Linked DNA regions of Homo sapiens: regions 2, 3, 4 and 5 are each linked to region 1. Evidence: fine-mapped expression QTL. A gene starts in region 1. Each other region holds a variant in brackets. All regions are shown on one strand. Distances are from middle to middle.

What was found. PIP is the estimated chance that this variant, and not a neighbour inherited with it, causes the effect.
Region 2: its variant is the best candidate, but not a certain one, in a credible set for the expression of SGPP2 in whole blood (INTERVAL, PIP 0.62).
Region 3: its variant is the best candidate, but not a certain one, in a credible set for the expression of SGPP2 in whole blood (INTERVAL, PIP 0.66).
Region 4: its variant is the best candidate, but not a certain one, in a credible set for the expression of SGPP2 in blood mononuclear cells (TOPMed, PIP 0.51).
Region 5: its variant is the best candidate, but not a certain one, in a credible set for the expression of SGPP2 in fetal neocortex (Walker 2019, PIP 0.66).

The regions. Positions count from the first base shown.
Region 1 is chr2:222,421,549-222,426,653 of GRCh38, reverse strand. It overlaps SGPP2 (sphingosine-1-phosphate phosphatase 2), which reads right to left and starts at 2,111. Exons shown (of 5, transcript NM_152386.4): 1 at 1,833-2,111. The coding sequence starts at 2,051. RefSeq lists enhancers at 1,118-1,177, 1,228-1,377, 2,568-2,867 and silencers at 1,678-1,727, 1,738-1,967, 2,058-2,407.
Region 2 is chr2:222,601,873-222,606,977 of GRCh38, reverse strand. The region is part of intron 15 of FARSB (phenylalanyl-tRNA synthetase subunit beta); the gene reads left to right. Among named protein-coding and RNA genes, the nearest start is that of FARSB, 52 kb to the left of the region's middle. The variant T/AT (reference allele first, on the strand shown) is at 2,256.
Region 3 is chr2:222,530,887-222,535,991 of GRCh38, reverse strand. The region is part of intron 4 of SGPP2 (sphingosine-1-phosphate phosphatase 2); the gene reads right to left. Among named protein-coding and RNA genes, the nearest start is that of SGPP2, 110 kb to the right of the region's middle. RefSeq lists an enhancer at 1-368. The variant T/G (reference allele first, on the strand shown) is at 1,930.
Region 4 is chr2:222,371,178-222,376,282 of GRCh38, reverse strand. No RefSeq gene overlaps it. Among named protein-coding and RNA genes, the nearest start is that of SGPP2, 51 kb to the left of the region's middle. The variant C/G (reference allele first, on the strand shown) is at 1,993.
Region 5 is chr2:222,460,935-222,466,039 of GRCh38, reverse strand. All of the region lies in intron 1 of SGPP2 (sphingosine-1-phosphate phosphatase 2), which reads right to left. Among named protein-coding and RNA genes, the nearest start is that of SGPP2, 39 kb to the right of the region's middle. The variant G/A (reference allele first, on the strand shown) is at 3,059.

The sequences.
Region 1 (5,105 bases):
ATTCAGCTTTCTTGCTTTTACATGATCTGTAAGCAGAAGTCCTGTGTTGGCTGGGTGGGTGTGGGGAAACCGCCACAATTTCACTCACTGAAGACCCACCAGGATTGTCAAGCAGTAAGAAGATAAAACTGTGTAAGAAATCTGCTTAGCTTGCTTTTAAAGGTCAAGAGGATCCAACTGTGGAGTTTAAAGTTAAGTTACCAGGGGTGATGTTTAAAACAGTTTGAGAAGCACTGGTGGAACAATTCACTCTTTTTCAGCTTCCTGAATTAGAGAAACAGGGTAGAAGCTTGTGAAGAGAGCAACAGAAAGCAACTCACGTGTCTACCTGTGGGTGTAAACAGTGTGTGCACCGAATATGTCACGGCACGTTTCAGCCATGGGACTGTTTTTTGTTTGTTTGTTTGTTTGTTTTGGTCTTTTTTTTTTTTTTTTTTTTTTTTTGAGACGGAGTCTCGCTCAGTCGCCCTGGCTGGAGTGCAGTGGCGTGATCTTGGCTCACTGCAACCTCCGCCTCAAGCTATTCTCCTGTCTTAGCCTCCGGAGTAGCTGGAACTACAGGCCGCACCACCACGCCCAGCTGATTTCTTATCCCCCCTACTCTGCCCCGTTTTTAAGACAAGGCAAGAGAAAAAAGAGGGGTTCTCATACTCATCTATAGGTTACCGGAATGTCACATGGGATAAAGAAGGAACAATAAAGAGGAAAAAATACAGAGGAGGATTTCTCTGGAGTAGAACACACAACCACCCTCACCCTCCCAAACAAATTCTGTAATCCAATGCCTATAATATTCCATTCCACACAGAAGCCAGGTTCTTCGTAATTCCTCAGTTACTACATCTAGAAATTTACACGTAAGTAAAGGCCACCTTTCTTTCACCAAAACCTTCTAGGAAGAACAAAATGTGGCTGTGTACAAGGAATTCGAATTATTAATACGTTTATTTCTGTTCTCCTGCGCCACACTTTTGACTTTGCCGAGGGAAAAGGCAGGTGCTGCCAGTGCTCCCGGTAGACATGCGTCCCCAGAAGCCAAGTGCAGCCCGTCTGGTCCCTGCTGCCTAAAGTCCCTGTGCACTGCGACGACGACGCACGCTGGTTCCCCCCAAGCCGCAGTGGGTTGTATAACCACGCTTTGAACACCTAGCGGGAGCGTAGCGAGCTTCCCTCCCAGAAGCATCTGTTAGAAGTCACTGGTGTCGGTCCATAAAAGACCCACCAGGCAGGAGGGACCCCCAGACTCTGGGGGAGGGCAAGCGAGAGTTGCTGTTAAGACATCATCGCCGGGGGTAGTGCAGGGAGGTTGTAAATCTCTCTAGGAGCTGTGTGAGCCCCAAGTTCTGTGCCCAGAGCTGGCGGTGCAGCGCGGTGAGGAGCGCGCTGAGCCCGGCTGCACCCGCATTTGTGCGCATCAGGGAAGGGGGATGGGCGGAAATGCAAGAATACGGGGGTGGGGGGGAGTCTAAGAACGTCTCCCCGGGGAAGTGCCAAGGACATCCCCGCTCCTCCGTTCCATTACGTAACTCTTACATATTTGCTGGCATCTACGTGAATTTAACTACTTTTGAAAGTGGGAAGTCTCTAAATGGACTGCATTGAAAGCGTCTGGGGATATCTCAATAGACCCGGTTGCCCCTGGCAGCGTTGGAGGGTGGCATCCTGGTTACTGGAAGGCCAGGCCTCCCCGTCCGCTCGCAGCGGCGGGAGCCGGGTCACTGCCGGGGACGGCGCCCTCTCGGCCCGGCCGGCCCCGCGTGGCGGAGTCGCAGGGACCCGCACGTCCGCAGCCGCCCCCTCCCCGTACCCGGCGAACACCTGCCCATGGTTACCTCCGGCGCCGCGGCTCTGCGCAGCCCGTTGGCCGGAGCCTCGCCGCCCTTGCCGTTGGCTGCGGGGAGATGCTCGACCCCGGGGACCCGCGCCGCGCGCTCCGTGGGGTCCGCGCCGTTCTCCCGGGGGCCTTCATCCGGAGCGGGGAAGAGCCCGCAGCGGCGCTGGAAGCGGGCGACGAGCTGGGAATCCTGCAGGCTCCGCAGCAGCTCGGCCATGGTGTGCCCGGGGCCGCGCTCCGCCGCCGCTGCCACGCCGGGCCGGTGCCCTCCGCTGGCACCGCCACTCCCGCCTCGCCCCCGCCGATCCCGCACTCCGGGCGGAGGCCGGGCGGGCGGGGCCCCGGGCCCAGCCAACAGGTGCGCCGCCCGGGTCCTAGCGCCCGCCCAGGTGTCTGCCTCCACCTTGCGCAACGCGTCCCCCTTTCTCTCCGTCCCGGAGGGCTTGGGCGGCCCCGGGCGGCCACGGGGGCAGGACCGCCTGTAACTGGACGGAGGAGTGCCGATCTCCGAACTGCGCCTCTCTTCTCCCGGCGCCCCCAACCCCCCACCCCACCTTCTTCCCCCGGCAGACGTAACACTAATGGGAGCGGCCGAGCGCGCGTGCACCTGCGGCCGCTCCCATTAGCCCATCCTTTTGGGCTCAGGCTGATCCCACAGTGACCTTCCTTGCAACTCTGAGCCCAAGGTGAAGTCGGATTTCCTCCCACGCCAGCTCCCCACAGCCAGCCACGTACTCTCACCTTCCTGCAAGACTAGTTCCCAGTAAATACAGCGAGCCCCCCAGGGAGAATTCCCAAGTTCTTTCCAAACTGCGTGATGCAACGTCTCCCTAGAGGTCCGAACACCCTTGAGCTTGCTCAAGTACCCAGGAGGTTCAAAGTGGGCCCTGAGTCATCTTCCGCGTCGCTGCCCCTGCCCTTCTGATTTGGCAACTGGGGAACATTTTCAGGTGGGTGGGAAGGAAAGTCCCTTCTGGGTTTTCCGCATTGAGAACAAAGATGCTTACCGCTTTCTCCTACTTCTTTCTTTCCGCTCTGCCTCTCTTTAAGCAATGACACTGGGAAAACCCCACCAGACCATTTAGGGAGTTTAAACGAGAAGAGAACAAAGTGCTGGAGGACTGGGGACAGGATTAGGTATCTCATTGCACCTGCACCTGCTTTAGAGCACTCAGCAGAAGATAGCAAAGGAAACATCCTGCAGGCCGGCCTTGGTTTTCCCTCCTCCCTCCTACATTTCCCTCCTGGGCTCAGAGATCCCTTGGGAGGCAACAATCAAATTAGGCCCAGGTGATCAGTCTGCAACAAAAGTGCAATTCAACCCCGTCTTTCGTTTGCAGCAGAAACCTGCATGTTTCCTGATTGTCCATGCAAAGCCTACTAAGAATTTGGTTGCACAAATGATTAATGAACACCTGTCAATGCCTTATTTATTCAGTTGTCCTTTTAGGCCTGAATGTCTTTGGGATGTGACTTTCCAGGATGATGTAGTCCCCTTCATGCCCTAGTTTCTACTTTTCTTGCTTCTCAGTCCTGTCTGGAGAGCAAAGTCAAGGGGACTGAGAGAATGCTGAAGCTCTTAAGGGAAACCATTTTCCTCTTACAGAAGACACGCAGAGTTATTGTCATGTCTGGCGGGATCACACACAGAAATGTCCGGCCCAGGAGGTGGAAGCATCTCTCCACAATGCTTCTGGCTGTCATTTACAGGTGTGAGGCAAAACCCTGTGGTTTGGTTTTAGAAGCTGGAGCTGTGATCGTTGGGGACCTGTTCTGCTTATGTGTTAAAGAAATATGTTTTCCTGTGAAGGCACTTGCATCATGTGTCTCCCGAATTTAGTGCTTCGATTTTTCTTTCTACCAGTTAGGAAAAATAGGCAAAGCAAAACATGGCACACGCAGCATTAAGTTAATTGCCAAAGAATTGTATTTGTAGACAGAGCATTTTATCTCCATGGAGGATCAGTTACTGATTCCAGCTTCTAGTGGCTCACCAAGTCACCTGATGTAAGTCACCATATGTCGCAGTTTATCCCTGTAATGAAATGATAATCCTCACTTCTTGTCTTTCTTATAAGGCTCTTGTAAAAATAACCTTGAGACAAGCTCTATAAGGCCTAGTGAGATCATGATAAGAAGGTGTATTGTGCTGGAGTCATTCAATCTAGGAAGGAATCCTCAAGAGAATTTGGCTCTGAACATCTTGAGTAGGACATCTTGAGCCTCCTGGGCAGTGGTAAAGTCCATTTCCCCAGAACCTTTTTTTTCTAAGGCCCAGTCTGATTATTCTGAACATGAATTTCCCAACCAACCTAACAAAAATCAACATCTTTGAGAAGTGGTAGGACTGAAAGACTGCTGTAATGGTGCAGAGATATCAAATAGTAGCTTGCAGTCATGCAAAAAATTTTTTTTTCTTGATACCAGAGAAACACCCTGTAGTTCTTTGATCACTGAACACTAGTCATACCTGTGGGAAATACATTTCACATCCCGCCCCCCGACCTTTTTTTTTTTTTTTTTTTTTTTTTTTTGCCAGGGCAGAAATCCAGTTATTTGTACTTTGCTCACTTGTATATATGTAACAATTACAAAATGACATATTTAAAAGGAATCAATGATGGATATATTAATACTAGTTCGGATAAAGGTTAAGCTACTATAACAAAGAGACCCCAAAATAGAGTGGCTTAAGGAACACAGACATGTATTTCTCTTTCATAGAATGGTTCTAAGGCAAGCAGTTGAGGTTAGTAGGAAGCTCTGCTCCATGGCCCTACTCCATGACTCTGGTTCTTTTCATCTTATTGCTCCACCATGCCCTGAAACTGAGCCTTAGGTCATCGTCCTCTTTTGCATGGTTGAATCTGGGTTAGGGCTGAACATCTGAAGTTCAGCTCCTGAAAGGGTGAAGAGAGAGAGTGTTCTGAGCAGCAATGTCTTATTAAGCAAGTGAGGCAGAAGTTCACACATCACTTTCACTAACATTCCATCAGTGAGAAACAATTGGAAATGTTATCTCTAGCAGGGCAACCTTATGTCAAGCTTAAGCTATATTCCTGTGGAAGAAGTGGAGGACAGAATTTTTTTGTGGGCAACCAGCAGTCTCCACCAGTATTAGGAAACTAATGTTGGTTAAAATGTTGTACAGTAAAAATCCATGTTATAATTCAGCCATAATCTACACATTTTATCTAGGCAGCTTGTCATTCACTTGGCATGTTATAAATACTCATGTGCAGATAGAATTTTTTAAAAGAAGCCACACTAA
Region 2 (5,105 bases), 180 kb before region 1:
TTTGGCCAGACTATTAACCTCAAGCTCCACATCAGCCTCTGATTATTCTAGAAGCTGTTTTGGTCTCCCAATAGGTTTTCTCCTAGCATCTTTCTTTGGGCTTTTAGGTGAATGTGAGAATAGGAGTGGAAAGTTTCTCTGGAAGACTCTGCTCTTTTCCAGTCTGTGCCATGTATGATAACATAACCAAACACCTTAGTTTTTAATCATTGGTACTTTGGTGGAAGAGGATCTATACCAAACAGGAGCCTATTTGAAAAATTTGAGTTATATGTAATAGTCATTTACAAGGGGACATCATGTACCACTCCTTTTTCTTTTCTGTTAAAAAATCATTTGGCGTGTTCTTTCATCTTATAGAATTGTAGCTAGCCGCCCCTCCTTTGCGCAGCTTAGATCAGCCCTCTCCAGGCAGTACTTTGAAGTCTGTGAAATACATAGATAATTTAGGCTGACATACTTGCCAGGCCCATTTAAAAAGCAGAATTGTTTGATGGCATGACACAAGCAGTCTGTTAACTGAGTTATAAAAGAACTGAGGCATTTCCAACAAACCCCAGCTTTGGCATGACTTTTAAATAGTTCTTATTTTGTGGTGTGTAGTCAGTGGACTTTCTATGATGTAGTATGGTCTCTTAGTGCAACATACTAGGAAATGGGAATGTTACTATACCCAGCAATTTCAAGGAGGAATGGGTGGAAATAAGTTTGTGGTTATTTTCTCCTTTGATTCAGTTCAGCTACAGTAGAGGGAGTATCTTAGCAAGATATAAGGAAGTAAGTCCGGAGAGAGCAATAACCCTTGGGAAACGTAAAAAGCCAGCCAATCAGTGTGGAGTTGGGAGGGGGCGCCTAAATAATGAGGTTAATCTAATTATTACGGTGGGCTTAATACAAAGCCCTAGAAATCAGGCTTTTCTTAAAAATATTGCAAAATTAAATCTAAAAATATATAGTTCATTATTGTATGTGTATGCTATAAACATCCTGAAACCTTTCTTGAATGAAATAGAGTATAAATTTTTTAAGTTCTCTTTTGTTTTTGTTTTTGTTTTGAGGCAGGGTCTCACTCTGTCACTCAGGCATGATCATAGCTCACTGCAATCTCGAACTCCTGTGCTCAAGGGATCCTCCCACTTCAGCCTCCCAAGGAGCTGGGACTACAGGCATATGACACCACCAGTGTGCCTGGCTAATCTTTACATTTTTTTAAATAATTTATTGTAGAGATGGAGTCTCACTTTGTTGCCCAGGCTGGTCTGAAACTCCTGGGCTCAAGTGATCCTTCTGCCTCGGCCTTCTAAAGTACTGGGATTACAGGCCTGAGCCACTGTGCCTGGCCTACATTCTATATTTTTTAATTGTGATTTTATTATTCTCATCACAAGTTTACTTAATTTGTTTTTTAAAATTCTAAATTTTTAATCCAGATATTGCTGCTCATATCAGAAATATAAAAGCTTTACATAATTTAGAAATCAGGAAAAAAGTACTTGGAATTTGGCAAAGATTACCAAAATAAAGCTTCCAGTTTAGTTGCTAAGCTCTCTCTTAATGGTAGTATTACTGTTGGGCTCTTCTCTCACAGCAAAAATGGAACTCCAAAGTTGTTTCAATACGTGCCTGTGTGTTAAAGTGGAAGCATGTGACATCCACACCAACAAATGGGTACCACATGGCAAAAATACCCAGAAGCAAGTCAGTAGTATGAAAGGGATAATTTAGTTCTGTTTCGTTTCATTTTTTTCCCTTCAGAGGGAGAGAATGAAAGAAAGGGAGACACAGAGAGAGAGAGAGAGAGAGAGAGAGAGAGAGAAAGTTTGTATTCCTACAGTGGAATCAGGCTCTTCAATTTAGTTTATGAATATGGTTGGTTTAGTGAGGTTTTGTGCCTGTCTGATTTTAATGTCGACTTATAGCTTTTAGATACCAAATTTCTTTATCTTTAAAAATGGAAATGATGGAGGTGACAGTGGTATGCTCCTCGCTTATCTCAGCTGGCATAGATATGGCCCACTGTCTGCTCCTGGCCCTGTTTAATAGCTATTTGTGTGTGCTTATCTTCTTTTTAGGCTGTAGGCATTTACTCAGAAAATAATTATTGAGGTCTGGCATGGTGGCTCATGCCTGTAGCCTTAGCACTTTGGGAGGCTGAGGCAGGCAGATTGCCTGAGCCCAGGAGTTCGAGACCAGCCTGGGCAACATGGTAAAACCCTGTCTCTACTGAAAATACAAAAAAAAAAAAAAAAAAAAAA[T/AT]TCAGTGGGCATGGTGATGTGTGCTTGTACTCCCAGCTACTCAGGAGGCTGAGTTGGGAGGATCGCCTGAGCCTGGGAAGTCAAGGCTGCAATGAGCCAAGATCATGCTGCTGCACTCCAGCCTGGGCTACTGGAGTGAGACCCTGTCTCAAAGAAACAAAGAAGAATTACTGACGGTTTAGGTTGTAGATGTCTTGTACTGGCTTTGACCTCTATCATCAAAGAATATCTAGAATAGAGCGCCTTGAATATAGTGTGTACTGAGAAATGTTAAATGGCAAGGGCAGTTATTTCTTTGTATCTGTTCAGTCCGAAGTTCAACTCAGAATATACTTTCCATAAGTAACAATACTTTCATGGCTAGAAACTTCACTGACTCTTAAAAATAATTTATTTCAGTTGCTTAAATGGAATTCTTAAGTTTCACAAAAACTTTTGAAAATAAAACATCTGTTTATCATATAAAAAACATTTCAACAATGCATATCTTTTTTTTTTTTTTTTTAAGACGGAGTCTCGCTCTGTTGCTCAGGCTGGAGTGCAGTGGCGTGATCTCGGTTCACTGCAAACTCTGCCTCCCGGGTTCACGCCATTCTCCTGCCTCAGCCTCCTGAGTAGCTGGGACTACAGGTGCCTGCCACCATGCCTGGCCAATTTTTTTTGTATTTTTAGTAGAGACGGAGTTTCACCATGTTAGCCAGGATGGTCTCGATCTCCTGACCTTGTGATCCGCCTGCCTTGGCCTCCCAAAGTGCGGGGATTACAGGCGTGAGCCACCGCGCCTGGCCTCAACAATGCACATCTTTGACCATATTAAGTGGATATATAGCCATACATAAGCTTGCCCTTATATTGTTTGTTTTCATTTAAATGTTTTTGGGTGTACCCTATAGTGGAAAGAGCATGGGTTTTACAGTCAGTTAATTCTGGTCAAATCCTGGTTTTGACCAGATAATTAATCGTATTAGCAATATAATTAATTAATATATATAATTAATATTATATTTATTATTATTATCTAATATATATAATAATATATAATATAATATTAATTATATTAATAATAATATAATTAATCGTATTAGCTCCAGCCAATTAGTTTGACTTTGGCCAAGTTACTTAATCATTCTGAGCTTTGTTTCTCCATCTGTTTTATAGGAATAATAATACTTACTTTGCATGGTTGTCTTGAGAATTAAATAAGATTATAGATAAATTGACAGATAGTTAATACCTAGCATGTGCCAGATAATCGATACCACAGATTAACAGTTAATGTTAGTTTTCGTTTTCCTCCATTTATGTGCTTACTTTTATATTATTTTAATATTAGAGTACAGTGTCTTAAAATATTCATGTTTTACTTGGATATCTAGAAGATAAAAGGCATTCTGTATTTTATGTCAACTATTGCTAGTAGCTTTTACCTATGGGAGTAAATCCGTGGAAGAAGTTTTGCTCAATGTATGCTAACATGAAGCAGCTTTCTGTTTTCAGTTTATTCCCTCAGATATTAGTTTGTTTTTTCTCTTTTTAATTTGGAAAGCAAAATGAGGCCAGCATTCGTTCTATGTTTGTGTTAGAGCAGCGGTCTCCAGAATGTATTGAAGGGCCACAAGTGTTATAAAGTTAAATGATGACTGCTGACTTTCAGTCTTCCTCTCTATACTTAGGTACTTCTTTTTAAAAATGAGTTTTGTTACAGGTTTAGATGATTTTTTTTTTTACAAAATAAAAATTTAATAAATTAATTTTCAGAAATCAATAGCTTTTATAGATACAATATGTCTAATTTCAAGCTCTAAGGGAAGAAAAGACCCATGTTATAATAGCACAAAACATAAATGATAACATACTTAGGAATAAACACAAGAAATATTATTTGTAGAAAATGTTAAAGTGCTAATGAGAGATGAAATAAGACCCAAACAAATGGGAAGATACACCACGTTCTTTCATAGAAATACGCAGCATCATAAAGATATCACTTCTCTCATTAATGGGTGCAGCACACCAACATGGCACACGTATACATATGTAACAAACCTGCACGTTGTGCACATGTACCCTAAAACTTAAAGTATAATAATAATAAAATTAAAAAAAAAAGAAGTAGAATTACTGGATAATATGGTATAAAAAAAAAAAGAAAAGCCACCTTTATCATATTCTCAATTCTTGTAAGTATTTAGATCTGTTTCTGAACTGTTCTGTTCCACTCATCTGTATGACTACTCACAAATTATTGCCACTCTGTTTTAATTGCTGTAGATGTATAAATTTTAATATCTAGTAGTCTCCCTCTATCACTATTGTTTTTTTATATGAACTTTAGAATCCATTTATGTAATTTTTTTCAATTCTATTGGTATTTTTTTTAAGATCACATTAGATTTGTAAATTGAGAGAGGTTTAGATGATTATAATTATCACTACAAGATCAAAAAGTTCCATCACCCTAAAAACGCCTTATTTTAGTTGCATTTTTTTCCCATACCTAATCCCAGACAACTACTATCTGTTCTCTGTTCCCATAAGTTTGGCCTTTTCCAGAATGTCATATAAATGGACTCATACTGTCTGTAGCCTTTTGAGAGCCTTCTTTCTTTCAGCGTAATGCCTTTGAGAGTCATCCAGGTTGTCAAGTCTATCTACAGTTTGTTCCTTTTTGTTGCTGAGTGGTATCCTACTGTATGGATGTACCAGTTTGTTATCAGTGTTCATTTGGACTGTTGGAATTCTTTTTTAAAATATTGCCTTTAGCTGGGCACAGTGGCTCACACCTTAATTCCAGCACTTTGGGAGGCTGAGGCAGGAGGATCACTTGAGCCCAGAGTTTGAGACCAGCCT
Region 3 (5,105 bases), 110 kb before region 1:
TGTGGCTGCTTTTTATTTATTTGGGAAAAGTGGATGCATTCTCAGTACCACCCAGACTTTAAGCCTTTATCGAGCTCCCTGCTCAGCATGCTGGAATTTAATTGGCACTTCTGAGTCTTTTGAGAAACCAGCCACTTCCCAATGGACCACATCTGAAGCCAGAGTCTTAGCCCATTTGGCTGCCTGGCCACTAGCCTCAGGGAGGTCCCCACTTCCCCTCCCAGTCAGGCTAATTGTCAGTTAATTGTAGGCTCCTCCAGGTCTGACCACACACCATGCTGAAGCAGCCTCCGAGGTGCCAGGCTGCAGAATGTCAGAGGCCAACTGGTTTCTCCACTGCGGCAGAAAGGATGCGAGTGGCTTCTGGTCTGAGGCAGATGGACCCAGTGCCTGCTCCAGCCCTTTCGACTGTGGCTCTCTGCCACGCAGGGGCCTCTGACCTCTGCATCACTCTGGTGCTTGACCAACTTCTGTCTTTGTCCATCTCCTGTGGTCTGCACTCAAGGCTCGTCCAGCTCCCATCCTAGACTTCCAGCCCTTCCAGCAGCGGATTCATCCTCCACTTGTAAAAGAGATGAAAACAGTGCCCCCACTGTGGCTTTTTTTTTTTTTTTGAGACAGAGTCTCGCTCTGTCACCCAGGCTGGAGTACAATGGCATGATCTTGGCTCACTGTAACCTCCGCCTCCCAGGTTCAAGCAATTCTCCTGCCTCAGCTTCCTGAGTAGCTGGGATTATAGGCACCTGCCATCATGCCTGGCTAATTTTTGTATTTTTAGTAGAGATGGGGTTTCACCATGTTGGCCAGGCTGAGTCTTGAACTCCTGACCTCAGGTGATCTGCCCGCCTTTGCCTCCCAAAGTGCTGGGATTACAGGTGTGAGCCACTGTGCCCAAAGGCTTGAGCCACTGCGCCCCCACTGTGGCTTTTTGAACAGCGTTGGGAAAGAAGGTACACAAATTAATTTGCCTGTGTTTGTTGTTAGTAATACATATGAAAGTTCTTGCTGGAAAATATGCTAAGGCCTAATCCCAACAATGGGTATCTGAACTTCTCCTTTGGTGGTTAAATAATAGTGATTTATTTTGTCTTTTAAAAAAATTAAAACCAAGAGGGAGTGAATGTTTTACCATGAGTATTCATTACTTTTGAAACTAGAAATAATTCCCTATTTTTACAAAAGGGTAAAAATATGTCTCTCTAGGGTAAAGAGAAAACAGTGACATACTAACATAGTGACTGATGCTCAGAAACATAACTAAATTCCCATTTTATCTCAGTAACTCATCCAACAGGGTGTAACAGAAAGTAAGGCTTGGTAGGGTGTAATTTATATTGCCATCGGCTTTTTTTCCCATGTTAAGTAAGGCATTTTGAAGTAAGTTTTTTTAAACAACATGAAAAAATACAACAAAAATGCTCTAGTCCAAAGCCAGAACACAGTTTTGTATGGTCTGCAGATAATTTAGTATTTGAGAAACCTTTTCAACATTCTCTGACTCCAACCAAAACTAAAACAAAAGTTGGGAGGAAAAAAAAATAAATGAATAAGCAAATAAAACAGTATCTGTGTAATTATCCAGAGATCAAACAATTTAGGGACAATAAAATAAAGCAGCATTTCAGCTAGGTCAGGTGCAAAATAATGGAACAAGTATTCACTGTTTGTTCATATTTCACACATTCGCTAACAACAAAAATTCTGGCTAGTTTTAATATATTTGGGATGGTTGTTTCATTAGTCAAAGGGCTTAAAATCCGTTTTGTGTAAGTTGAATAGTCAGGGCATCATAAATATAGTATGATGAGCCTTCTTGGTTTGCTCTAGCCCTCCTTCCTCCACAAACACAATATTAGGTCCACATTTTGAGACTTTGAAAGAGTAGGAAAAATGCCATGCTATAGATGCAGAGAGCATATCATGGGACTT[T/G]GTCTGCCCTGCTTCTGATGCCAGGAGGCACTTTATTTTAGAGAACTGAGCCTCCTGTATGCCAATCCCAACCCTAACCTTTGCTGCCAATCAGAGCCACTGCTCGCACGGGTTGGCTCCAGACCTGGCTGGTTCCATCACAGTTCTCAGCACCCCTGGGATAGCATTTGATGCAGCCACGGACTTATTATCCAGGTGCAGCCAATGTGAGATCTTCCCTGAAACTCTCCTCCCTGAAGTCCTTTAAGGAGCGAAATAGAAAAAAAAAAAAAATAAATGAAGCCCAGAACTCCAATCTCAGGGAGGATGGCAGACCGAGAGTATGAATCCACCATGCAGAGATAAGCTTGGGTAAGAGTGGTGAGGGAAGCTTCTGATGAAGGTCAAGGCCTGGGGTCCCACTCTCCCAATGCCAGCTGCACCTCTGACCTCCTTATACTATGGTTATAAACATCAATACATTTCCCTGTAAGCTTAAACTAGTTTGAGTTGATGTCTGTTATTCTCATTCAAGGAGTCCTGACTAACGCATCTGGTAACCACTTGATTTTGGGCATATTCAATTGTGGTGAACTTACTGGGCTCTTTCCAGTCCCTGTTCTCAGGACACTGCCTTCACATCCTACAGGAGTGGCTCCCAGGTTGCATTTCTGCTCTGCGACCTGTCCCCCTGCCAAGGGTCACTGGTCCAAGGGTAGTGCTGGGTCCAGCCGAAGTCTCACCTCCATATGTTAGAGTTTTGATCTGAGGGAGGAGTTGTCGGGAGCTGGGATACATGAATGGTGGCACTCCAAAGGGAAGGTGATGACACTCCTCAGAGCCACCCCTCTTCTGGTCCCTCCTGAGGCTTGTTTTTTTGACAGCTTCCTGAGCTCCACAAGCTACCCCAGTCCTTCCAAGACATTCTATCTTCCCTCCTTTCCCTCTTTCTCTCTGTCTTTTCCTTCAGCTGGATGCAATTGGTTTATTCTTCAAACTAAGAGAACATGAAATTATACACCAAAAAACTGTTTTCATAAATTATCACTTCACATAGAATGCCTTTCACCATGAAAAAATGTAAGACCTCAGTAAAAACTGGCTTCAGCAATAAGGAACTCTGTTTTACCTTGAATGGTGAGCCCAGAGGTACGGTGGCCCCAGGGGTGGTAAAGTCACTCAGTGATGTCATTGGGGCCCCTGTGTTTTATTTCCATACTTTGGCATGGACAGTACTGATTTCTCTCAAAGGCCAATTCCCCAAACATTCCCAAATGGCTGCTGCTCACAAATGGGGCTGTGTCATCATTCACGTCCAGCAAGAGATAGAGAAACTTCTCCATGCATGGAATAGCATAATCAGATTTGGAAATAATTTCCAAGCAGTGGTGTAAGAGCAGCTGTGAGACATATTTAAGAGCCAGAACGGATTCAGCTTGGTGACTACCTGACTGATGGAGGTGTGGGAAGGGAGGAGCTGGGGTGTTGCCCATGTTTCTTGCTTGGGTGTCTTGGTAGGCAGGGACGCCTTCCCTGGGGTGGGGCCAGATCTGGTTTGGTGAGGATGATGACACAGCCATGCGGGTTTAATGCCTCCCCATGCTTCAGTTGGGCCTGCCCAGGAGACTAGCTGGAGCCCGTCAGCAAAGCCTTGACAGGGGCACCAAACCACATCTGACAAGGAGTGACTTCCTAAGAGGCGGGATAAGCAAATTATTTCTCTCCTTGAATTGCTCTCCTGCTTATGCAGAGAGAGCCATTTTTTTCTTTTCTTTCATTTTCTTTTTTCTTTTCTTTTTTTTCTTTTTTGAGACAGAGTTTCACTCTTGTTGCCCAGGCTCAAGTGCAATGGCGCGATCTCGGCTCACTGCAAACTCCGCCTCCCAGGTTCAAGTGATTCTCCTGCCTCAGCCTCCCAAGTAGCTGGGATTACAGGCATGTGCCAGCACACCTGGCTAATTTTTTGTATTTTTAGTAGAGATGGGGTTTCTCCATGTTGGTCAGGCTGGTCTCGAACTCCTGACCTCAGGTGATCCACCTGCCTCGGCCTCCCAAAGTGCTGAGATTACAGTCATGAGCCACCGTGCCTAGCCTAGAGAGAGCCATTTGTATCAAGCAGGCAGCCACCTGAATGATGTACTCACACGCCCTGAGCATCAAAGCTGTGTGCAATCAGAGTGGTTCATGTGGATGCTGGGTGTCTACAGAGTATCTGTCTCCACCTTCCAACCCAGTTTTGTTCAGGGGCATGCACATATCTAGCATGGAAGACAGATCATTAGTCCAATCAATGACTCTCAACCCCGGTTGCACATTAAAATCAACGGGGGAGCTTAAAAAAATACCAAAGCTCAGGACCCACCTCCATATATCTATTAATATGTATACACACACACATAACATAAAATTCACCACCTTAACTATTTTAAAATATCCAGCGGTATTAACAGGATTTATATTGTTGTGTAACTACCATGATCATCCAATTCCAAAATGTCTTTCATCTTACAAAACTGAAACTCTATACACAATAAATAAGAACTTCTCATTCCTCCCTGTCTCCCTGACAGCTGCTGGCAACTACCATTCTAATTTTGGTCTCTATGAATTTGATTACTCTAGGTACCTGATGTAAGTGGAATCATATAAGATTTCCTTTTCTGACTGGCTTGTCTCACTTAACATAATGTCTTCAAGGCTCATCCATGTTGTAGCAGGTGTCAGAATTCCCCACCCTTTTAAGGCTAATACTCCATCGTATGTGGACAGGCACACCTCATTTTACTCTGCTTCCCTTGATTGCACTTTGCAGATACTGTGTTTTTTACAAATTGAAGTTTTGTGGTAATACTGTATCCAGCAAGTCTATCGGTGCCACTTTCCCAACAGTCTGAGCTCATTTTATGTCTCTGTGTTCTCTTGCTTTCTTCTCACCTCCCTATGCTCTGAGACACAACAATATGAAATTAGGCCCATTAATAACCCTAATAGCCTCTCAGTGTTCAAGTGAAAGAAGAGTCACATGTCTCTCACTTTATTTATTTATTTTGGAGGCTGGATCTCATTCTGTCACCCAGGCTGGAGTGCAGTTGTACAAGCATACCTCACTACAGCCTCCAACTCCTGGGCTCGAGCAAACCTCTCTCCTCAGACTCTCAAAGCACTGGGATTCCAGGTGAGCCACTGCACCTGGCTGT
Region 4 (5,105 bases), 50 kb after region 1:
GCTTTATGTATCTGGTTCCTTTAGTGTTGGTGCATATATATTTACAATTATTATATCCTCTTGCTGAATTGACCCCTTTAGCATTATATAATGACTGTCTTAGTCTCTTCTTACAGTTTTTGTCTTGCAATTTACTTTGTATTATATAAGAATAGCTACTCTTGCTCTTTTTTGGTTTTCATTAGCATGGAATATCTTTTTCCATCCCTTTGTTTTCAGTCTGTCTTTATAGATGAAGTGTATTTCTTGTAGGCAATAGATTATTAGATCTTGATTTTTTTTATCCAGTCAGCTATTCTATGTCTTTTGACTAGAGAGTTTAGTCCATTACATTCAATGTTATTATGATAACATAATTATTAAGGACTTACTGCTATCCTTTTATTTGTTTCTGGTTGTTTTGCAGTCTTTGCTTCCTTTTTTCCTTCCTTTCTGTCTTCATTTTAGTGAAGGTGATTTTCTCGGATGGTAGGATTTAATTTCTTGCTTTTTATTTTTTGTGTATCCATAGTATGTTTTTTGACTTCAAGTTACCATGAGGCTTGCAAATACTATCTCGTAACCCATTATTTTTAGCTGATAACAACTACTTAACAAACAAACTAGCAAAAAGAAAATTAATAAAAACTCTACACTTTAACTTTATCCCCTGGCTTTTTAACTTTTTGTTGTTTCTATTTATATTTTATTGCACTGTCTATGTTTTGAAAAGTTGTTGTAGTTATTTTTTGATTGGTTCATCTTTTAGCCTTTCTACTTAAGAGTAGTTAACACATCACAATTAGAGTGTTATAATATTCTGGATTTTTCCCCTAGAAGAAAACCTAGGCAATACCATTCAGGACATAGGCATGGCAAAGCCTTCATGACTAAAACACCAAAAGCAATGGCAACAAAAGCCAAAATGACAAATAGGATCTAATTAAACTGAAGAGCTTCTGCATAGCAAAAGAAACTATCATCAGAGTGAACAGGTAACCTACAGAATGGGAGAAAATTTTTGCAATCCATCTGACAAAGAGCTAATATCCAGCATCTACAAGGAACTTAAACAAATTTACAAGAAAAAAAACAAACAACCCCATCAAAAAGTGGGCAAAGAATATGAACAGACATCTCTCAGAAGACGACATTTATGCAGGCAACAAACATATGAAAAAAAGCTCATCATCACTGGTCAGAGAAATGTAAATCAAAACCACAATGAGATACCATCTCACACCAGTTAGAATGGTGATTATTAAAAAGCAGGAAACAACAGATGCTGGAGAAGATGTGAAGAAATAGGAACACTTTTACACTGTTGGTGGAAGTGTAAATTAGTTCAACCATTGTGGAAGACAGTGTGGCAATTTCTCAAGGATCTAGAACTAGAAATACCATTTGACCCAGTAATCCCATTACTGGGTATATACCCAAAGGATTATAAATCATTCTACTATAAAGACACATGCACATGTATGTTTATTGCAAGAGTATTCACAATAGCAAAGACTTGGAACCAACCCAAATGCCCATCAATGATAGACTGGGTAAAGAAAATATGGCATATTTACATCACGGAATAGTATGCAGCCATAAAAAATGATGAGTTCATGTTCTTTGCAGGGACATGGATGAAGCTGGAAACCATCATTCTCAGCAAACTAACACAGTAACAGAAAACCAAACACCACATGTTCTCACTCATAAGTGGGAGTTAAACAATGAGAACACATGGACACAGGGAGGGGAACATCACACACCAGGGCCTTTTCGGGGGTGGAGGGCTAGGGGAGGGATACCGTTAGGAGAAATACCTAATGTAGATGATGGGTTGATGGGTACAGCAAACCACCATGGCATGTGTATATCTATGTAACAAACCTGCACATTCTGCACATGTATCCCAGAACTTAAACTATAATAAAAAATAATTCTGGGTTTTTCTGTGTTCTTGCTATTGTCAGTGAGTTTTGTACCTTTAGATGATTTCTTGTTGCTGATTAATGT[C/G]CTTTTCTTTCTGATTGAAGTACTCCCTTTAGCATTTCTTGTAGGTAAGGTCTAGTGTTGATGAAATCCCTCAGCTTTTGTTTGTCTGGGAAAGTCTTTATTTCTCTCACATTTTAAGGATATTTTCACCGGATATACTATTCTAGGCTAAAAGGTTTTTTTCCTTCAGGACTTTAAATATATTATGCCACTATCTCCTGGTCTGTAAAGCACTGAAAAGTCTGCTGCCAGACATATCGGGGCTCCTTGAATGTTATTTGTTTCTTTTCTCTTGCTGCTTTTAGGATCTTTTCTTTATCCTTGACCTTTGTGAGTCTGATTATTAAATGATGTAAGGTAGTCTTCTTTGGGTTAAACCTGCTTGGTGTTCTATAACCTTGCACTTGGATATTGATATATTTTTCTAGGTTTAGGAAGTTCTTTGTTATTATCCCTTTGAATAAACTTTCTATCCCTATCTATGTACCTCCTCTTTAAAGGCTGTAACTCTTAGATTTGCCCTTTTGAGGCTATTTTCTATATCCTGTTTTATTATTATATTATATATTATATAATATGCTTTATTATTTTTTATTCTTCTTTCTTTTGTCTCCTCTGATTGTGTATTTTCAAATAGTCTGTCTTAAAGCTCACTAATTCTTCTGCTGGATCATTCTTCTATTAAAAGACTCTGATGCATTCTTCAGTGTGTCAATTACATTTTTAAACTCCAGAATTTCTGCTTGATTTTTAAAATTATTTCGATCTCTTTGTGAAATTTATCTGATAGAATTCGGAATTTATTCTCTGTGTTATCTTGGATTTATTTGAATTTCAACTCGAAATAGTTATTTTGAATTCTTTGTCTGAAAGGTCACATATCTCTGTTTCTCCAGGTTTGGTCCCTGGTGCCATATTTAGTTCATTTAATGAGGTCATGTTTTCCTAGATGGTCTTGATGCTTGTGGATGTTTATCTGTTCCTGGGATTTGAAGAGTTCGGTATTTACTGTAGTTCTTACAGTCTGAGCTTCTTTGTACCTGTCCTTCTTGCGAAGGCTTTCCAGTTATTCAAAAGGACTTAGGTGTTGTGATCTAAGCTGTGCCTGCCCTGGGGGCATCCCAAGCTCAGTAGCCCTGTGGTTCTTGTAGACTCATAGAGGTACTGCCTTGATGGTCCTGGATAAGATCAGAACAAGATTACTAGACAGAGACTCTTGTTTTTTCTTCTTACTTTCTCCCAGAATCTCTCTTCCTCTCTCTCTCTCTCTCTCTCTCTCTCTCCCTGTTCTTTACTGTCCAGAGCTGAGGGTGGGTCGACACAAGCACCCCTGTGGCCACGACCACTGGGACTGCACTAGGTCAGACTTGAAGCCAGTATCACACTGGGTTTCACCCAAATCCCACCATAATCACTACTTGGCCACTAACTATGTTTACTCAAAGCCCTGGGGCTCTACAATCAGCAAGTGGCAAAGCCAGCCAGGCTTGTGTCCTTCAGGGCGACAAGTTCCTCAGGCCCTGGGTGGGTACAGAGGAGCCATCCAGGAGCCGGAGACTGAAGTCAAAAACCTTAGAAGTCTACCTGGTGCTCTATTGTACTGTGGCTGACCTGGGATTCAAACCATGAGAGTCTTTCCACTCTTCCCTCCCTTTTCCACAGACAGAGGAGTCTCTTCCAGAAGCCACCATAGATGGGAATGTGCTGAATCTCACCTAAAGCCAGGAGGTCTCAGTTTCACCCAAGGCCCACAGGGGCACTATCTGGGTATCGATGCTTGTTATTCAGGGCCCAAGGGCTCTCTAATCAGCCTGTGATGGGTCTTCCCTTCAAATCAGTGGGTTCCCTTCTGGCCCAGGGTATGTCTAGAAATGTCATCCTGGAACTAGGGCCTGGAAAGGAGGCTTCATGACTCTGACTAGTGCCCTGTCATACTGTGGATGAGCTGGTATCCAAGAACTAAGATCGAGTCCTCTTTACTCTTCCTTCTCATCTTTTCAAGTGGAAGGAAGGAGTCTTTGGAGCTAAGAGCTGTGCAGCCTGGGGTTGGGGAATGAGTGGCATACAAACACTCCCTTAGATGCCCTGGCTGGTATCTCAGTAGGTCGTGTGCCCCCCAAGTCCACTAGCTCTGAGCCCAGTTCAGCACTAGGTCTCACCTAGGAGTTGCAGCCCTTGTGGCCTAGATTACCTTTCAAGTTTATTTATGGCCCCAGAGCCCTTTAGCCTGTGGTGGCAAGCCTTGCTGGAACTCAAGTTCTAACTACTCAGATGGACAATCTCCTCTAGCTAGGGTTGGTTAAAATGCTCCCTCCGTAGGCAGGTGTTAGCTGAGTTCAGGCCAGTTTTGCTTTCTGCTGTGACAGTGCAGCACTAGTTCAATAAAATGTCTCACAGTTGCTGTGCTCTCCCTCTCCACAGTGCACAGATTCTCTATGGCAAGGAGCCACTGTTGGGAGATGGGAGTGGATGGTGTCAGCAATTCAAAACTGTCTTCCCAACCCTCTTCCAGTGCCTTTCAGTGTTATAATGTTGAAATCAGATACTGTGAGTGCTCACCTGATTTTTTATTCTTATGAAGGTTTTTTTTAGTATAGATAGTTGTTAAATTGGTGTCCTTGTCATGGAGAACGATTGGTGGAGCTTTCTATTCAGCCATATTGCTTCTCCCCTCTCCCCAAGTGTCTCTTAATGGAAAGGAGGGGAGATGGGATTTTATCCCCAGTGGACATTTGGCAATATCTGGACATATTTTTGGTTATCACAACTTGGGGAGGGGTGTTCCTGACCTTGACTCATTAGAGGCCAGGAATGCTGCTAAAAATCCTACAATACACAAGACAGCCACCTGTAACAAAGGATCATATGGCCCCAAATGTCAATATTGCCAAGGCTGGGAAAACCTTTAATACACAGCGGTGTAGTTTCTTCAGGAGCATTTGGAAGTGTGAGGAGCAATAGGCATTACTTTGGTGGTTTCAGGACTGAAAGACTGGGGAGTACCATTGGCATTTATACTGGAAGCTAAGGATTCAAAATATTTTGGAGTGTGCTATAGTCTCAGGCAATGAAGAACTGCCCAGTCTCAAATGCCAATAGCACCTTTGTTTGGAAACACTGCATACCTTTATGTC
Region 5 (5,105 bases), 39 kb before region 1:
TTTCAGGCATGAGCCACCACAGCCAGCTAGCAAGACTACTTCATTTAGCAATAAGTGCTATGACGAAATTAAAGCAGGAAATGGGTTACAAAGTGATCAATGTGTGTCTGGGGATGCTTGCCACAGAGGAGCCATTTGAGCTGAGCCCTGGATAAGGAGAGGTGTTGCTTCTTTGAGGGTCTGCGGGTCAGAGAGAGAACACTTAGTGAAAGGCCCCAAGCAGGAGGCAGCTCTGCCTGCTGGGATATGTGTGAAAGAGACAGAGAGGAGATGACCTCAAGAGCAGACGTGAAACCAAGCCCAGACTTGAGACTGAGGCTGGAAGGAGCAGAAAGCCATGGGAGGGTTTTAAATGGGAGCACAACTGGATTTACTCTGGTGAGACTAGAACAAATTTTGGCTCTGAAACAGTGGGATGAAGCCCTGCTTTAATTCTTTTGTTTTTTGATTTCTTAAACTTGGTGAGAAAATATCATTAATTCCCAGTTCTGAACTGAAAAGCCACTGGGGTGAAATGGCATCATTTCTACCATGAGGGAGACCTGTGGTGTCCTGAATTCACAAATCTATTTACTAACCTGGCCCGTCACTTTTAATTACTCACTTTTTTTTTTTTAAGAGAATCAAGACTTTCCAACCTATAAAGAAAATTAAATGATGATTACTCAGGAAGCCTAAGAAAGACTGACAGTGTCCCTTGAAGGAGAAAACAGAAGGAACAAAAATGCACGAGGGCTTCTTCTTTCATCTTCAAGTCCAGATAGAATTACAAGTTGGGTGATCTAGCCAATGTCTAAGCAGCGCTCAGGTGATTAAAATTTCAGGATGGCGAGACTGAAAGTCAATAAAATGTAAGGACAACTTATTGGAGTCAGCTTGAGAGGGAACTGCACACTCATCACTGTCACCTGCTTAGTGGGCGTTTGTCGGGATCCCTCTGCTGCGTCCAAGGATAGGAGGGAGGGTTGAGGGGACTGAGCCCAATGTGGCTTTCATTTTACAGTGGAATTTCAGTTGTAGTCTTTTACACAATTTGAACTGTTTTCCTCTTGATAATCTGTCATATTTCAGCTCATCCTCTGAACATCTAATATCTTTTCTTCCTTTTCCTCAAGGTGGACCAGGACTACAAATTAAGAAATTCTTGAAATTGTGAGACAGTGACCCATGGTGGCAACAATGCTCTTCTTGACTCTAGAAAAGGGTCTTGTAACTAGAAAAAACACTGTCTCATCATCACTTAAAACCCTGTGCTTGGGCTGGGTGCAGTAGCTCATACCTGTAATCCCAGCTGTTTGGGAGGCTGAGGTAGGAGGATCGCTTGAGGCCAGGAGTCTGAGAAGAGCCTGGGAAACATAGTGAGACCTGTCTCTACAAAAAATTAAAAATATTAGCCAGGTATGGTGGCACACACCTGTGGTCCCAGCTATTTGGGAGGTTGAGGTGAGAGAATTGTTTGAACCTGGGTGGTAGAGGCTCCAGTGAGCCATGATCATGCCACTGCACTCCAGCATGGGCAATAGAGTGAGACCCTATCTCAAAAAAGCAAAGAACAAAAAACCTCTGTACTTGAAGGACACAGCATTTGCTTAGGAACCAAATCTGGGCATAGGATAGTGAGAGGGTTAGAAGCAAGCCTTTATCTGGATAGGACAGAAATTTGCAGTCATCATTTCAGAGACCAGGAATGTGAACTTCTGCTAGAGAATTTCTTCCACAGACAATAAGAGACATTGGCATCGATACAAAGAACAGAAATAACCACTGCCATTTTTAAAGTGGGTGGGAGAGCCAGCTGCCCTTTAAATAATCAAAATGTCTTAAGAACTTAACTGTTTTTCAAAACATCTTGGATCTGCTAAAACCTGAAACACATTGAACCGAACATTTTTCCATTTAATTATTAAGCCCTTGTATGTGCGGAGGGATTTGGCAGGCAGATGTTTCTGATTCATTTATATTAACTTATCGAAATGATACTTGGAAGAGCTGTATGATGTTCGAGAAGGAGTGTTATAAACTTCAGTTTACTCGTTTTCATCCAGGCATTTCCCCTCACCCCAACACACGTACAGGATTCAGAACTTGGGAGGGTTGATTCAGTCTCTTCTAACCTGGCAGCATGTCCTCACCCATCCCTACCTCCCTTCAAAAAACATTTTCTGAAGCATTAAAAGGCACTGCCAAAAATGTAAGAAAATTATTCAGGCATAAATAAAGTTTTTTCTGTGATAATCTTTTATGTACCAAGATTTTAAAAGCAAATAGGTAAATCATACAAACACAAAACTGAAGTCTGACAAATTTGTCACCAAAGTCAAGGTGGTTTTATACAAGGGCTTTCCCACTTCCCTCTTTATTTGGGCTAAATGGCCACACAATTTTTAGCTTGGAATTTTCTTTCAGGACAGTCATGTTAGTGGGTGCATGTGTACGTGGAGAAGGAGGCTGAAGCAAAATGGTATCTTCATGCTACTCCTCCCATTTCTTTCATTTTTTAAAAATAGAGACAGGGTCTCACTCTGTAGTCCAGACTGGGCTCAATTCTCAAGAGACCCTTCTGTGGCACCATGATCAACTATTTTTTTTATATTTTGTAGAGACAGGGCCTTACTATGTTCTTGAACTCCTGGCCTCAAGCAATCCTCCTGCCTCCCAAAATGCTGAGATTATAGGCTACTGTGCTCAGCCGCTTCCCCATTTCTTGAATCCAGCCCTTTGCTTTTCAGAGCTCTAAAGGAATCCAAGATGGTAAAGACAGTGCTTGGGAAGGATTTTCCTTTCTTGATCCTTCCCAGTCCCTGGGGTGACTGTGGATATGTGGTAGTGGATATCCGTGATCAGTCAGGGATGGAATAGACTAAGTGGGGACAGAATGGAAGAGGGAGGACATTTTGCCAAAAGAGTCTTGCTGTCTCCACGCTCCTCCTAAAGTCTTGCCTAGAGCAGAAATTCTTGAGAAGTTCCATCAATTTCCGTCACATTTTCACACTGTAGTTCCCCAATGGGAGGCTGTCGCTGAGGAAGTTTAAAGCCATTCGTCACAAAAATAAACTCA[G/A]GAAAAGCTTTGAAGTTGGGTGCATACACATGAAAGAACATTAAGAAGAAAACCATGCTGGGTGGGAACAATGGTCCTTCCCACCCAGACTACCTCCTCCGACCCTGCTTGCTTTGTGCTCTGAGAATTTTTGTTTGTTTGTTTTTCTGATTATCTGATTATCAATTTTTTTTCTGATTAACACATTTTACTTGAGAACATCATGGAAGTTCCAAAACTATATAAAAATAAAATCAAAACTGCCATTGTCCCACCCCTCAGACAATCCTCTGGAACATTCCTCGTGGTCCCTTTACTATGCATAATCGTGAGTGCAGGTGGTGCTATGTATCTTAACGAAATTGTGATTGCGATTAAGATCGAAAATCTTAAATTTTAAAGCATTATTACATTGTGAGCATTTCTCTAGGTCCCTAAATATTATTTCAGACCATTCTTTTGGCTGAGCTTAGCTTTTTACCTGTCTAGATCCAGTTTTGCTGCGTTTCACTTCCTCATCCACCCATTCTCACAGCAGATCCAACAGCTGACCCCTACAGCAAACAAGCCCACCAGATGACCAGTGTTGACGTGAGCATGAGTCTTGTCACCCAAGGGTCTTCTAACTCCCTGCTTACTCCCTGCTCACTTTTGCTCTAACATGAGTCTTGTCACCCAAGAGCGTTTCTAGCTCCCTACTCACTTCTGCTGGGGTGCATGGAGACCCCATTCCCATGGACCTCTTTCTACCCTGCTCATTCCTTAACCTGACCAAATAAGCATATGTGTTGACCATGTTCCCCGCCACCATCTGCTTGAGTTTCTTGGCCTTACGATGTTTGCTTGTGTTATTCTCCTGAGGACCCAAGATCTCTCTGCCATGTTTTGCAAAAGCTTCAAGCATACGCTTTAAGGCCTCTCAAGGACCACAGCTCAGAGATACACTGCTGAAGAAATAAAGAACGACCTGGGGACAGGCATGACTCATGACGGTCGCTGTGCTGAGGCAGAGGGACAGTCCCCTAACCCATTTCACACAGGTAAAGCCAAGTTCTCTATACTTTGGAAGTCACAGGGGTTTGTACACAAGCTGGAGACTTCCTTTGTTGGCTCCAGCCAGCTGTGGTTGAGATAAACGAATATGAACAGAACCTAAGAGCAGGTCCCCAACCCCTGGGCCATGGACTGGTTCCATTAGGAACCAGCAGGAGATGAGTGGAGGGTGAGTGAACATTACCACTTGTGCTCCACCTCCTGTCAGATCAGTGGCCCCGTTAGATTCTCATAGGAGCACAAACCCTATTGTGAACTGCACATGCGAGGGATCTAGGCTGTGCACTTCTTATGAGAATCTAATGCCTGATGATCTGTCACTGTCTCCCATCACCCTTAGATGGGACCATCTAGTTGCAGGAAAACAAGCTTAGGGCTCCCACTGATTCTACATTATGGTGAGTTGTATAATTATTTCATTATATTAATATATTACAATGTAATAATAATAGAAATAAAGTGCACAATAAAGGCAACGTGCTTGAATCATCCTAAAACCATCCCCCCACCTGCCCAGTCCGTGGGAAAATCGTCTTCCATGAAACTGGTCTCTGATGCCAAAAAGGCTGGGGACTGCTGCCTAAGAGGCTCTGGGTGTCATCACCAGCCTTGGGACCAATGCCGGACATGCTAGGTAACTCTGGGGAAGTCTGAACTTATAACTTCACCTTGCAGTGGGGACAACACCAGCTTCTTTACTAAGGCATTTGGAAGGGGAAATGGAGTCACTTATGTAAATCACATGCTACCCCATCAGGCACACAGCATGTGTTCAATAAATGGTCATTGTATTTGCATTTCTATTAACAATGTAAATCACAAGACAATGTCAAAAGAAAGTCCAGTTGGAGTAGAACACAGAGGAGAGAAAGACGGTAAAAAGATTCGAAAAACAGCCGAATGTGGTGGCTCATGCCTATAATCCCAGCACTTTGGAAGGCAGGAGGAGTGTTTGAGCCTGGGGGTTCAAGGCTGCAGTGAGCTATTATCATGCCACTGCACTTCAGCCTGGGCA